4 separate regions of the Homo sapiens genome follow, and regions 1, 2 and 3 are each reported to be linked to region 4. Evidence: microRNA targets listed by miRTarBase, many of them from high-throughput screens and not tested one by one. Region 4 holds a microRNA gene; each other region holds the end of a gene's coding sequence.
What was found. The annotated mature microRNA hsa-miR-324-5p reads CGCAUCCCCUAGGGCAUUGGUG and lies in region 4 at 2,112-2,133, shown strand. An mRNA with a match to its seed (bases 2 to 7 or 8) in the 3' UTR can be bound and repressed. Matches are read on the target gene's strand: a 7mer-m8 pairs with bases 2 to 8, a 7mer-A1 pairs with bases 2 to 7 and ends in A, and an 8mer does both.

Region 1: the mRNA of HNRNPH2 is a reported target of hsa-miR-324-5p. Seed matches in the 3' UTR shown: 7mer-A1 at 795-801.
Region 2: miRTarBase lists POLE as a target of hsa-miR-324-5p. The part of its 3' UTR that is shown has no 7-base or 8-base seed match.
Region 3: the mRNA of FAM83H is a reported target of hsa-miR-324-5p. Seed matches in the 3' UTR shown: 7mer-m8 at 1,567-1,573.

What each region holds. Positions count from the first base shown.
Region 1 is chrX:101,413,013-101,416,707 of GRCh38, forward strand. It overlaps HNRNPH2 (heterogeneous nuclear ribonucleoprotein H2), which reads left to right. Exons shown (of 2, transcript NM_019597.5): 2 at 1-1,121. The coding sequence ends at 326. RPL36A-HNRNPH2 (RPL36A-HNRNPH2 readthrough) reads left to right here. Exons shown (of 4, transcript NM_001199974.2): 4 at 1-1,121. Among named protein-coding and RNA genes, the nearest start is that of HNRNPH2, 6.6 kb to the left of the region's middle.
Region 2 is chr12:132,621,556-132,625,250 of GRCh38, forward strand. It overlaps POLE (DNA polymerase epsilon, catalytic subunit), which reads right to left. Exons shown (of 49, transcript NM_006231.4): 48 at 3,350-3,439; 49 at 2,207-3,255. The coding sequence ends at 3,142. P2RX2 (purinergic receptor P2X 2) reads left to right here. Exons shown (of 11, transcript NM_170682.4): 11 at 64-833. The coding sequence ends at 417. Among named protein-coding and RNA genes, the nearest start is that of P2RX2, 4.6 kb to the left of the region's middle.
Region 3 is chr8:143,722,585-143,726,279 of GRCh38, forward strand. It overlaps FAM83H (family with sequence similarity 83 member H), which reads right to left. Exons shown (of 5, transcript NM_198488.5): 5 at 1,349-3,695. The coding sequence ends at 3,337. Among named protein-coding and RNA genes, the nearest start is that of MAPK15, 8.1 kb to the left of the region's middle. RefSeq lists an enhancer at 539-1,040.
Region 4 is chr17:7,222,432-7,225,475 of GRCh38, reverse strand. MIR324 (microRNA 324) reads left to right here and starts at 2,097; the gene lies at 2,097-2,179. ACADVL (acyl-CoA dehydrogenase very long chain) reads right to left here. Exons shown (of 20, transcript NM_000018.4): 10 at 2,611-2,809; 11 at 2,239-2,343; 12 at 1,746-1,832; 13 at 1,601-1,663; 14 at 1,407-1,508; 15 at 1,233-1,330; 16 at 1,083-1,155; 17 at 924-996; 18 at 762-834; 19 at 592-667; 20 at 210-519. The coding sequence ends at 379. DVL2 (dishevelled segment polarity protein 2) reads left to right here. Exons shown (of 15, transcript NM_004422.3): 15 at 1-134. RefSeq lists an enhancer at 21-520.

The sequences.
Region 1 (3,695 bases), not on the chromosome of region 4:
TGGCAGCTATGGCAAAAGACAAAGCTAATATGCAACACAGATATGTGGAGCTCTTCTTAAATTCTACTGCAGGAACAAGTGGGGGTGCTTACGATCACAGCTATGTAGAACTTTTTTTGAATTCTACAGCAGGGGCAAGTGGTGGCGCTTATGGTAGCCAAATGATGGGAGGGATGGGCTTATCCAACCAGTCTAGTTATGGAGGTCCTGCTAGCCAGCAGCTGAGTGGTGGTTATGGAGGTGGTTATGGTGGTCAGAGCAGTATGAGTGGATATGACCAAGTTCTGCAGGAAAACTCCAGTGACTATCAGTCAAACCTTGCTTAGGTAGAGAAGGAGCACTAAATAGCTACTCCAGATATAAAAGCTGTACATTTGTGGGAGTTGAATAGAATGGGAGGGATGTTTAGTATATCCAGTATGATTGGTAAATGGGAAATATAATTGATTCTGATCACTCTTGGTCAGCTTCTCTTTCTTTATCTTTCTTTCTCCTTTTTTAAGAAAACGAGTTAAGTTTAACAGTTTTGCATTACAGGCTTGTGATTCATGCTTACTGTAAAGTGGAAGTTGAGATTATTTTAAAACTTCAAGCTCAGTAATTTTGAACACTGAAACATTCATCTAGGACATAATAACAAAGTTCAGTATTGACCATAACTGTTAAAACAATTTTTAGCTTTCCTCAAGTTAGTTATGTTGTAGGAGTGTACCTAAGCAGTAAGCGTATTTAGGTTAATGCAGTTTCACTTATGTTAAATGTTGCTCTTATACCACAAATACATTGAAAACTTCGGATGCATGTTGAGAAACATGCCTTTCTGTAAAACTCAAATATAGGAGCTGTGTCTACGATTCAAAGTGAAAACATTTGGCATGTTTGTTAATTCTAGCTTTTTGGTTTAATATCCTGTAAGGCACGTGAGTGTACACTTTTTTTTTTTTTAAGGATACGGGACAATTTTAAGATGTAATACCAATACTTTAGAAGTTTGGTCGTGTCGTTTGTATGAAAATCTGAGGCTTTGGTTTAAATCTTTCCTTGTATTGTGATTTCCATTTAGATGTATTGTACTAAGTGAAACTTGTTAAATAAATCTTCCTTTTAAAAACTGGAAAAAATCTTGAACTGATTGATTTTTATTATGTTCTGTCATATGGGCACACTGATTGACTTTACAATTCCCTCAAAGTTAAGATTTTTAATTTTAAAATTATAAATGATATTTAGCATCTTTATATGTTCATTGTTGCATATATCATTAATTATTTCTAAGATATATCCCTAGAAATGGGATTGCTGAGTCAAAGATATACTCATTTTTAAGGCTTCTGATTTGTGTTACCAGAAAGATTCTGGTACTTTATCTTTCTACTTGGAGTGTGTGTTTTATTTTCCCCCTTATACCCTCCTTATTGATGCACATTATTCTTTTTGAACTTTGCCAGTTTTTTAGTTGAGAAATGATATCTCATTGCTATTTTAATTTGTATTTTTTTGATTAATATTAAAGTTGTACATTCTTTTTTAAAAAAAACTTACCATGTCTACAGGACTATTGAGCTACTTTTGGAGACTGTACTTACCAAGATAGTATTCTCTAAAATCCAAAGAAGTGAAAGCAAATAAATAATCCTTTTTATTTCACCACAAACTAGAAGGCACGTTTGTATGTTTAAAAAGAAGTAGGCTTACAATTATGTGTTAAAAACAAAACATAAAAAAGAAGCAGGTTTATGTTATGGAAATAAATTGTCTCCTCCATGAATTCATTAGTAGATTCTCTATAAACACTCTCAGGTGTATTTTAGGGCATCTAAAGCTTATCTTAAACCAGCGGTTCTCAAACATTCATGTGCATCAGAATCATCTGCAGGGGTTGTTTAAACATTCATTTCTAGGCCCCATCCCTAGAGTTTCCAATTCAGTAGTTTTGGGATGTTGCTTGAGAATGTGCTGATGCTGCTGGTCTCAAGACCACGTTTTGAGACCCATCACAGTTCCCCAAACAGCAACTTTAAGGAGCAGCTTCCTTTATGATCCCTGATTGCCTCCCCTTTGTTCCCATAACAAGTAGTTTAAATTTTCTGTTAAAGTCCAAACCACATATTTACAATACCTCGCACCTCTTAATGAGGATTTTGAGCTGCTGTGGCATTGTGTGCTGATATCTTAGATTTCTGTCTGGATCACAGTGGTCATTAACAATTCCACCCCTCAATAACTTTAAGGCCCTGATGTCCCTCTTATCAGTACCAACTGTACCGTGAACTACAGATCTCTGTAGTTTCACTGACCCCTTGGGGACTGGATTGCTATACTTGGGCTGTTCAGGGCTTGGGGCCCAGAGAAATGAGATGGGAGGCAAATACCAAGTTGGTATTACCTGACTCCGTTTCATTCAGGAAATGAAAATCAATTCTAGAAAATCATTCAAGCTGAAGATGCAGTGAGACGTGATTGAGATTCTTTGATGACTTCTAATTTTTATCACAGCTTTCAGGAGAGCAAGAAATCCATTTTGACTCCTATCATGTTGAGCCAGTCCTTGCCCTTCAGGAAGCCTTTCTCAGAGGGTAAACAAGTAGGTGTTTTTGCCTTCCCAGGCTACTTAGTTAATTTTCCAGAAGTTTCTCTAAGTCTGAGCAAAGATTCTCAAGTTAGCCACTAGATGGCACCAAATCCCAGGAGACAATAGAGGGTTCTTTGTGATCTTAGATGTTCACTTACTCTTCTTCGCTGGCTAAGAAGACTCAGAAGGGCTCTGGGGAGCAAAGGAGAGAGAACCTGGAGAAGGTCAGCGGTCAGCACTAGAGGTGTGCAAAGGGACAGCAGTACAGCTGGTGTGCACACGCGTGCACACCCACCACCATTCGTGCTCCAACACTCACATCTAACACTACTACCCAGGAAAGTGATGGGAGGTCGAGTGGGCAGTCCACCCACAACACCCCCCAAACACTGAGTCAGAGGATTTATTTTCAACTGCGTGTGTGAGCTATTTGGCAGGATCAGGCAGAAAATTTGCAGCCACAGTTATCGTGGTCTAAGTATCCGATGGCTTGTGCCAGTGGTTCTCTGGGTGTGGTACCTGATCAGTAACAGCATGAACCTCCACCTTGTGAGATATGCAGATTCTTTTTGCCCCCCCGCCCCCCGCCTCGTCCCTTTCCCCCAAGGACTGAATCAGAAACTGGGTGTGGAGCCCAACAAGTTGTGTTTTGTTTTTTGTGTTTTTCTGAGACAGGGTCTCGCTCTTGCCCAGGCTGGAGTGCGGTGGTGCGATCTCAGCTCACTGCAGCCTTGAATTCCAGGCTCAAGTGATACTCCCACCTCAGCCTCTCGAGTAGCTGGGACTACAGGCGAGTGCCACCAAGCCCAGTTATTTTTTAAAATGATTTTTATAGAGACGGGATCTCACTATGTTGCCTAGGCTGGTCTCGAACTCCTAGGCTCAAGAGATCCTCCTGCCTTGGCCTCTCAAAGTGCTGGGATTACAGGTGTGAACCTCTGTCCAGCCAATAAGCTGTGTTTTAACAAGTGCTCAGGGTGGTTCTGCTGCAGGAAACTACTGGCTGATGGATACATGGATTCCATTATCCACCCATTCATTGATTCCTGCATTCACTCATCCAACCCTAAAGGAGGTAACCAAAACAGAGACAATCCCATGTGTAAGCATGACATATCTTCTC
Region 2 (3,695 bases), not on the chromosome of region 4:
TGGGGTCCCAGCGGGTGCGGGGGGTCCACCAGGCCCTTACACACCGGTCTCTGCTGGCCCCAGGGCTCCTTCCTGTGCGACTGGATCTTGCTAACATTCATGAACAAAAACAAGGTCTACAGCCATAAGAAATTTGACAAGGTGTGTACGCCGAGCCACCCCTCAGGTAGCTGGCCTGTGACCCTTGCCCGTGTATTGGGCCAGGCCCCTCCCGAACCCGGCCACCGCTCCGAGGACCAGCACCCCAGCCCTCCATCAGGCCAGGAGGGCCAACAAGGGGCAGAGTGTGGCCCAGCCTTCCCGCCCCTGCGGCCTTGCCCCATCTCTGCCCCTTCTGAGCAGATGGTGGACACTCCTGCCTCCGAGCCTGCCCAAGCCTCCACACCCACAGACCCCAAAGGTTTGGCTCAACTCTGAGCTCCTTTCCATCTCACTGGACTGCAGACCCGGCCTGGTGGGGCCAGAGAGTCCCCAGCTAGGGACCTGCACGTGGACGTGGGCACCTCAGTAGCGGAGCATCTCCACGAAACGGGGCACCACAGGATCCCTGTGCAAGGGCTGGGGGCACGCTCTGGCCCCAGGCTTGTGCCCCACCCTGGCATACAGCCCCTGACACCTCCTCCCCAGCTGGTCCCTACAGGGCTGCTCACTTCCCATCACCTCTCACAGCCACCTGGAACCCAAGCCAGCTGAGCTCTGAGGGGCTCTGCTCCCGGTCTTGGGCCCTGGGAACCCCACCCCACCCCACCCCACAGGCGTTGTAACCTTGAATCTGCCCAGACTCTTCCCTTAGAAGTCACAACATACTCAGTCCAATAAACCTGTGAGCAGAACCTTCTGGCCTCGTTCCTTGGGGAGGAGCATCGTGAGCCTGTCAATATGGGATGTCAGGCCCTGTCGGCCTGGAGCTGGGCTGCACGGTGACCTCTGTCTGGGTCATCTCCCCTCTAAGCAGCCTGCGAGGTGTGCAGGGCACATGTCTGCCTGCCCCATGACACATGGTCCCCACAGCCAGCCAGGCCACGGTCAGGTCTGCCCAGGCTGGGAGTGCACTGGGACCCAGGCCACCTCCTCAGTGCACTTGCTTCTGACAGGGCCACCCCAGACTCCAAACCAAAGCTGGCTCATCTCAAAATGTGGGAGGACAGCATGACTCAGGAAGAGAGAAATAGGAGGGAGGCCGGGACAGCTGCACACAAGGAAAACGAAAGCTCAGACTACAGCAGTGCTCAGACCAGTGTTCATTCCTACTCCATGGGAGGGGGCAGGAATGCCGAGATGGGAAGTCAGGCCAGGCGGGGGTGGAAGGACACCAGCCCGGGAGCCAGCACTAACTGCATCAGGGCCTGGGGGTAATCTGGTTACTGCATCCTCAGATGCTGCAGTGGTTAGACTGGTGCCCACTGGGTGGGGGGAGGAGCCCAGAACAGCGTCATGATGTCACCTGTGCCAGTGACAGATGACATCCTGCCTCTGAAGGGAAACCCAGTCTCAGGAGAGCAACACCACGCCCAAAGGTCAAAGAGCGGAGAAGGGCGGGTAAGACGACCCTGGTCTGACCCTAAAGCCTGAGTTTGGAGGTCTCAGCACAACTCCAGAGTCCTCATCCCAGCGCTGTGTTCAGGTGGCGAGAACATGTCTTCCGTGGGCCCCATTTCCCTTGACTGTGGCCTCCCAGCCTCGGGCATCGGCCTCAGGTCACCCCACGGCCTGCACATGCTGTGTGGCTCACAAATATCCAGCTCATTTTTGGAGAAACTGGCTCTTCTGGTTGAGCCGCTGCTTGGGAACCAGGGCCAGAGCTTCCCGTTTCTGACCCCTCCACCACTACTCAAATGCCCGCAGCTAGCCTCACAGTGAACCCAGGCTGACTGGCGCCCACGGCTGCACCGGGCGACCCCTGGTCCTGCTAGGTGGCCTTCCTGGGGGACGAGCGGCTGTCCCCTGGCCCCATCACTCCTCATTCCTGAGGGTTCTCCAGATTCGCTTCCAGGAATGAAGCCTAGTCAGCCAGCCTCCCTCCTCCCCTGCTTGCCCTAATTTGATTTGATCTCCACTCTGGAGGCCTCAGCACTCCTCCATCTGAGCAGGCATCAGGTTTCTCCAGGCAGGCGGCCCCAGCAGCATCCAGGGGCCAAACACGTGCCCAGTGGTACCCAGTCCCCGATCTGAGGCGCTCTGCACAAATACACAGTGACAACCTAGAGAAACTTCAGTATGAAATACAAATAAAAACAAAGTGTAGCAGCGATGGCCTCAGACAGTAGATGGCAGGGACAAACTAAGGCTGGCTCTGGGCCAAAGACACGAGCCTCCTGGGGAGCCTGTGGGGCCCCCTCCCTCCTGTGAGGCTCTCGTCTGGGGTGTCTGCATTTCTGATTTACATTTCATACTTGTTTGGTGCCCTGTGAAATTGGCCTTTCTTCTTTCTGCTTCCAGCTGGTCCTGTGTGGAGGTGAAGGACAAGGGCTGCAGTGAGCCAAAAGTGAGGTGCACAGAGGTCTTGTTTTCCTGAGGCTGATAGAGGGTTCCCTCTAGACCCGGCTCCAAATAAGCAGGGCTCACAAGCCAAAATCCAGATTCTCACGGGTTAGGGTCTGGATTCCTGGGGAAACCAGCCCACAAACTGCTCCTGTGAGGCTGTGGGGCCAGCCCATTTCTCCATGCAAACAGGTGAGACTCCAGCCCCACCAGGGCCTTGGGAACCCGTCTCGTCTCAGAGCCCAATCTCAGGGAGCCAGAAGCCCCCAGGGGCTTTTCCTCCCTCTGGGAGGCAGGACAAAGAACTAGGGGCACCTAGAGGACGCTCCCACCCCACCAGGTGTGGTGCAGGAAGCAACAGAGGCCTGGAAAAGCATTCACTGCGTGAGAAACGGCGCCCAGGGCACTCGCAGCCTCGCTCACGGCCTGCTTCTTCAGGTGCTCTGGCGAGGCCAGGGCCACATCCTGCTCCCGCTCCCTCCTGTGACGTCTGAGCTCCCTGAAAATGGTTTTCTTTGGTTTCCTCCCCGTTCCCTGGCCTGGGGTCACAGGTTTGGACAGTCAGGGTGGTCAGTGGTCTGGTCACTGGAAGCACGGGGATGTGGCCTTGGCATCAGGAGGCCTGGCACGGACGCAGAGGCACCCGGGGCCCGGGGCTGGCTAATGGCCCAGCTGTGGGTTCTTCTGCAGCAGCCACTCCAGGGTCTCCAGGAGGTACGACATGCCGTAGTGCTGGGCAATGTTCCGGAATATTCCGATCTGTTCCATGAAGACCTGCAGGAATAAACAGGCACAGTGAGACCCCAGTCCACTCAGAGAGGAGGCCAAGGAGGCCAGGCTGAGCCGAGGCAGATGAGGGAGAGCCCACCTGGGTGTGGATGGTGAGGGCGAAGTCTCCCGCGCAGCTGCAGTACACAGGCATGCTGGTCTCCTTCACCCCGCGGCACTTCAGGCAGACCTGAAAGGGAGCAGCCCCGATGGGCGCCAGCCCTCCCGCGCTGGCCAGACCTGCCTGCTGCTTCTTCACAGGCTCGCGAGACACATTCGTGGGCCCATCAGTAAGCCTCGAGCCCCTGCTGTGTGCAGCCAGCCCTCGGTTATGAGTAAAATGCACGACCTCATCCCACGGTGCCAGCGCCTTCCCTACACCCACCCTCGCTGTGGATGTTCCACCCCAGATGCCCAGTCCTGAGGCCTCCTCCAGGCCCTGCTCA
Region 3 (3,695 bases), not on the chromosome of region 4:
ACCCCAGAGCCCAGTGCCGCCCCCTAGAGGCCCTGCCCACTGCACATCCAGCACTGGGCTTTTCCCTCCAGGTTTGCCTGGGGCAGCTTCTTGTTCTTTGTCCATCATTTCCTTACCTGCTGTGGCTTCAGGGTCCAGGCTGCCCCCCAGGGTGGTCCTGTGGGGTAGGGATGTAGGGTCACCCCCTGGCCATGTTTGTGACTCTGAGCCAGAGGAGAGAAGGGGAGAGAGAAGGGGGACACCCCTCCCCCTGCTGTCAGGGACTGCAGCCTGCGCCCCCTAGTATGGCCACTGCACCTGATCTGTCTTCAGGTCTCCGTAGGTGAGGGTGGGAGACAGACATCTCGCGAGGTCAGGGTTACCTCCTCTTGTCACCCCCAGGCAAGGTCCCTGGTGTGAGTTCAGGCCAGGGCTGTGCAGGGCTGCAAAGATCAAAGGGGCCCTGTGGGCACAGACCTGTGTCCTAGGGTGCCAGGTGTCCTCAGCTGCACCTGCCCATGGGTTGGGGTTGGAACACAAGGAGGCAGCTGGAAAGCTCACAGGCTGGAGGAGCTCACAGTCTAAAGGGCGCGGCCTGTGCTGTCGGTGGCGGAGTTGGGCTGCCAGGCTCACAGTCTGGGAAGCTCATAGGCCGGAGGAGCTCACAGTTTGAAGGGTGCGGCCTGTGCTGTGGTCGGTGTTGGGCTGCCAGGAGAGGGGCGCTGCTGGGTTGTGGAAGCCATTGCCACCATGGGGGAGGGCGGGGAAGGACAAGATGTGGGTGGGGGAGCTGAGCAGAAGGTGAGAGCTGGCGCTGCCCTGGTGCTGGACCAGGCACCTGCAAGAGACTCAGAAAGGGAGGCTGGGTTTGGGAGAAGGTTGGAGGAGGCGGAGGAGGGATCGGGAGGGCCCGAGGAAGCGGTGAGCCAGTCAGAGACCCAGCCCAGGGGCTGTTTCCTGAGGGGGCTGCCGAGGGAGGTGCTTGTTGAGCTTCAAAAGCCCAAGGCGCAGGCCCAGGGTGCTGAACAAGCAGGACAGAGAGGCTGTGGGAGAGGAAGCTGCAGAGAGGCCACGGGGCTGCAGGGTTGGAGGCTTGGCCTCAGGCTGGGCAGTGTGTGGTGGGGCTGCTGAGTGGGGAATCGCAGGTGGGCACCCAGGAGTGTGCCTGCACAGGGGGCATCGGGGACAGGGACAGGAGAGCAGCGTGAAGTTGGGGAGGCCAAGGTGGGCCTTGGAAGTGGAGCTGGGGGGTCTTTAGTGCCCCCCACAGGGGTGGGTGGTGGGTCCACAGGGGAAATCTGGGAGGCCACGTGGTTAAAGGCTGCAGGATGTAACTGGGCGATTATACACACTGGGGAACATGCTAGAATACTTTGTGTGTTGTGTTTTATTAACACCAAAATGTGCCACATCATGGTTTAGAAGAGGTGGAGGGTGCAGGCAGGAGGCTCCGAAGGCCCAGGCAGGGCCGCCAGCCTCTGGCCTCTCCATGGACTCCAGCTGGAGAGCCTGTCCGCTCAGCAACACCCCAGGCAGCACCAAGAATAACATGCCCACAAGAACATCATGGCCAAGAGACGCACAGGCGCATCCCGCTTCCAGGCACCTTTCCCACCTGGCCAGAAGTCCCTGCTGTCATCCCGACTTGCACGGTGGTTTTGGTAACCAGTGGGCTGTGCAGGAGTGAAAGTGGGGTCACTTTCCTTCCTTTCCCAGCTGCTGGAGTCGGAACTGCTGCCTTTGTTTGGCGGCCTTGTTTCTTAAATCAGTTCCCTCTTAGGATTTATTACACTAAAAAAAAAATTAGTTTTTGAAAAGAAATAGGAGAATACAGAAACATGAATTTCACGAGGCTATCATCTAACAGTGGGGGCTTTCTACACACGTGGTGCCAAAATGTGTCATTCTGAGTCAATTGCAATTCCTCTCTAGGAGTGAAAAGAGATAAAAGATAAGCCAAGAACCCTGGACAGATTCTTGGTGTTGGTGACAAAGAGGAAAGGACCTGAGAATGGGGCTGGTGGGGAGAGGGGGGTGTCTGCTGGATACCAGGAGGACAAGGACCACTCCCACCTGCAGGGGTGCCCAGGACCTAGTTGGGCTCGGCCTCAGCTGCACCTTGTCCCCTGCCCTCACCTGGCCCCATACCTGTCAAGGATAAGCACTCCACAACCAGCCCTTCTAGCGCCTGGCTTGGGCCGGGCCTGTGCAGGGGGTGCTCATGAGGCCGGGGCCACAGGTTGTCTGGACCATGTTTTACTGTGCTGCAAAGGCCAATGCCCCCTCCCCACTCTCACCCAGTGCTGGCCAGAGCCTCGCTGGAGGAGATGGCAGACCTGGCCAAGGCGCCCCTTCGGGCTTCCCTGTGTCCCGTCCCCAGAGGCCTGCCCTGTCCAGCTTCCTTGCCACTCCAAGGGGCATCTTCTGGTCCAGCTCCCCCCCCCCTGCCCCACCCACCCCTTGCAAACTGCCCGCAGCCAGCCCAGTCTTCCCCACAGCAAGAGACGGGCCTCCAAAAAAGATGCTGGGAGGCAGCGAGCAGGAGAATCCAAGTAGGAAAGGAAGTGAAGCCCAGGCGGGGGAGGGGGGAGACGGGGGGGGGGGGGGGGGAGGGAAGGAGGAGACCTTGAGAGAGGGAGGGAGCGGGGAGGGGGGAGGCCCTGAGAACAGGAGGCCCTGAGGAGGAGAAGGGCCCAGAGAATGAGGAATTGAGGCACAGAGGCGAGACCCTTGCAAGAGGATAGGGGACTTAGCGGGGTGCAAGGCTCACGCCTGTAATCCCCCCACTTTGGGAGGCTGAAGCGGGCTGATCATTTGAGGCCAGGAGTTGGAGACCAGCCTGGCCAACATAGTGAAACCCTGTCTCTACTAAAAATACAAAAACTACCTGGGCGTGGTAGCATACATCTGTAATCCCAGCTACTCAGGAGGCTGAGGCAGGAGAATCGCTGGAACCCGGGAGGCAGAGGTTGCAGTGAGCCCAGACCGCTCAACTGCACTCCAGCCCTAGGTCTCAAAAAAATAAAGGGGGCGGGGGGGACTGAGGCACAAAGAGATGGCGGAGCCAGACGCTGCGCCACGCAAGGCTGACGGTGCAGAGATGAAGGTGCTGAGGGGAGAAAGGCACTGGTGGCGAGGGGTGCAGCCCCAGCGTTGGGGAGGCCAGGGGGCAGAGACGGCAGCTGCCAGGTGAGCCTCCAGTGGAGCCGAGGTCTGGCGCACTCAGCCAAGCCCCAAGCGGCCGTGGCCTGACAGCCGCTGCTCAAGCAGATGAGCAGGGCTCTCTGTTCCGCGGGGCTTCTGGATGACCGGGGCAGCGATGCGGGCACCCTGGCCTGGGTTGCCAGGCCAGAAGACTCACTTCTTGCTTTTGAACGTGCCCAGGATCTTGGGCACGAACTTGCCCACCTTGCTGTCCCTGGTGCCCTCCTCCGCGGGGCCTTCCCCTGCCCCAGGGCTGCTGGCCTCCTCTTTCTTGCAGAAGACCTCGAAGCGGCTGTACACGCGCTTCTCCTTGCGCATGCTCTCCATGCGGCGCAGCAGCCGATCGCGCTCCTCCGCGCTGGCTGGCAGCGTGCGGCTCAGCCGGCCCTGGGTCCCCAAGCTGTCCGAGCGGAAGATGGCTGAACACTTGTCCTTGTCGGACATATCTGGGGCCAGGACGCCAGCAGCCGGTGGACGGCCTAGCTCGGGGCTGTTGTGGGTCGGGCCGGGGC
Region 4 (3,044 bases):
CGGTACCCCGGGGTTAGGCATCCTAGACAGCAGCCTGAGGAAGCTGGGAGATTTGGGCCATGTAGCTGCCTTTGTTACTCTATTTATTTTAGTCACTTGTATAAAACACCAAATAAAGCAATAGAGGCAAACTCCCCACGCCTCTGGCTCCTTTCTTTGGGAGGGAGGCAGGCAGCAGGGGGAAAGAACCGTCACACAGGAGCAAAGCATGACTGGCTAGAAATTTTTATTATTTGCGAGGCAGTAAGTGCTCTTGAGAGCAGGCACAGTGCTGGGAACACTAGGCCCCTTCGGGACAAACCAGGGCCTTAAGGAAAGGGGCTTCGGCTTTGGCTTGAGGGAAGGCACATAACTGGGACAGGCCCTGGCCGGGAGTATTCAGAAGCCAAGTGGGTTGCTGGTGACCACACCACCCCGCTCCACCAAGGCCTTGGAGATGCTTTTGAAGTTGCGGTAGAGCTCTTGCTGCCAGGGGTCAGACTGCAGGGCGGCCATGCCCTCTCGGATCCGAGCTGCAGCCTGGGGAGAGGGAAGGAGGGGTTGGGCCTGCACCTCCAGCCCTCACCTGAGCTTGGCAGCCCCGAGTCTCACCTCGATACACCAGGTGTCACAGAGCATTTTCTCATGCTGGGCCGTGGGGTGGCCCTCACTCAGGGATCTTGAGGCCCTGGCAGGAAGCAGGAGATGAAAATAAATCTGGGCCGGCTGGGATCCAGGCCCAGGCCCCCTGCGGCTCAGGCATTCCCTGCCTGCCTCCTCACCTCGAGAGAACCACCACCATGGCATAGAGGTCGATGGCCCCGTCTGCCAGCCGCTGCAGCAGAAACTGTTCATCTGTCCGGTAGGTGGGGTGGGGGTGGGGGTGGGGGCATTAGTCTCAAGGAGAGGAAAGGGAGGGGCGGAATGGTGTAGAGCTCACTTACTGACAATCCCCTTCTTGTGTTTTATCAGCTTGGCCTCCACCACAGTGGCAAACTGCTCCAGAGCCCGTACTGCCTTAAGAGATGGGGACAGTGCGGGGCTCAGAGGGGCCATCGGCTGCAGTCCCTGATGCAGGCTCTCCTGGACCCCTGGCCACTTACCAGCTCGCCACTCCGACTCAACTCCGGGTGGACAAGTCCGCTGAGACTCAGGCCGCTGCCCAGCCCTGCCCGCCTGAGAGGAAGAGGGAGAATGACTGGTTAGTTGCCATACACCACCCTGCCCTCCCCTGGCTCTGGCCCTAAGCCTACCGCCTCAGCTGTTTGCCTGCCTCTCCTAGCAGGAGGCCAGCATTCCCAAAGGGATTCTTTAGAGCACTGCCAAGCCCAGAGAGCTCCTTTCCTTTGTCCTATGGGGGAAGAGGGTCCAGCAGTCAGGACTCACTGTCCTCCCCACCTCTACCCCCACCCAATTCTCTGTCTTACCATACAGCCCTGCAGAGCCACAAACAGCCGAAGAATGTCATTTGTCCCCTCAAAGATCCGGAAGATGCGAAGATCTCGGAGCACACGCTCTACTCCAGGTTCCTAGCACAGGGCCACACAAATTATATGCCCGTGCTGAGATGTGCCTACCCACCCCTGGCCCAGCCGAGGCTCTGCAGAAGACCGTCCTGTACCTTCATGAAGCCCATACCCCCCATGATTTGGATGCATTCATCTGTCACCTTCCAGGCTGCCTCCTAGGGACAAAGAACAGATGAGACTGGTTTTGGGAGCTGAGCACCCAAACTGGACTCCCTCCCAGCATGCCTGGGACCTCACCGAGCCAAAGATTTTGCTGATGGCGGCCTCTATCTGGAAGTCCGTGGCTCCCTGGTCCATGTTAGCACTCACCATGTAAGCCATGGACTGAGGTTGCATAGTTGGGACATGGGAAGGAAAATTGCAAAGGGCTTTGTCAGACTTGGCCTCATCACCCAGATCTCCAAGATAAGGGCTGACCTAGCTTGTCAGGTCAGGCAGATACTTGTTCTGGGTCAGTTCATCAGGTGCTTCCAGGTATTTGTTTTCTTAAAAGGGGTGGATGTAAGGGATGAGGTAGAATTAACTTCTGGTACTGCTGGCAGGCACCTGAGCAGAACATCATTGCTGTCTCTCTTCGCAGAAGCTGAGCTGACTATGCCTCCCCGCATCCCCTAGGGCATTGGTGTAAAGCTGGAGACCCACTGCCCCAGGTGCTGCTGGGGGTTGTAGTCTGACCCGACTGGGAAGAAAGCCCCAGGGCTCCAGGGAGAGGGGCTTGGGAGGCCCTCACCTCAGTTACATACTGCAGCATAACCATCCGTGCCAGCTTCTCCTGGATCAGCCCAAAGTTGTGAATTTTCTCCCCAAACTGGGTACGATTAGTGGCATGATCTACCTGGAAGAGGGTCCACACATCCCGCTGTGGTTCAGTGTGGTTCTGCAGTCTCCCTAGGAGAGGGGCTGGGCTTGCGCCAGAGGGATGGGTTTTGCATACAACCAGAGTTCAGTCTACGCTGGATGGAGACCTAAGCTAGCAAGTCGGGCTGCTGGTAGGGGAGGAGTTTCTAGTGTAGGGAGTGCCTGCAAGTGATCAGGGACACATGGCAAGGGGGACAGTGAGACTTCTGTTTGGGTTACCTAGGGACTCGGGCAGGGTACTCACCGCCTTAGCAATGATGCCTCTCATGGTACCTGCCAGGGCCGCAGCCATGCCAAACCTTCCATTGTTGAGGATGTGCATGGCAACCTTGAAGCCACTCCCAACCTCACCCAGCACGTTCTCCGATGGCACCCGTACTCCATCAAAGAACACCTCTGCTGTGTTTGAAGCCTTGATGCCCATCTTCTTCTCAGGGGGCCCACTGTGTCAGGGCAGTGTGGGAAAGCAGAGGTGTGTTCAACAGGTTGTCACTGGGGGAAAAACTGCTCCTTCGCTCCTTATGCACCAGGGAGGAATGACGACCACTAGACTATTAGAGGCTACAGCCACCACTTCCCCTCAGGCCCTGAGGGCTAAGGAGGCCTGGCTATGTCCTATTTTGTGTTGGACTTGGTTGCTGGAGCCAAAACTTTAGCTCAGTTGCATACATATTAGTC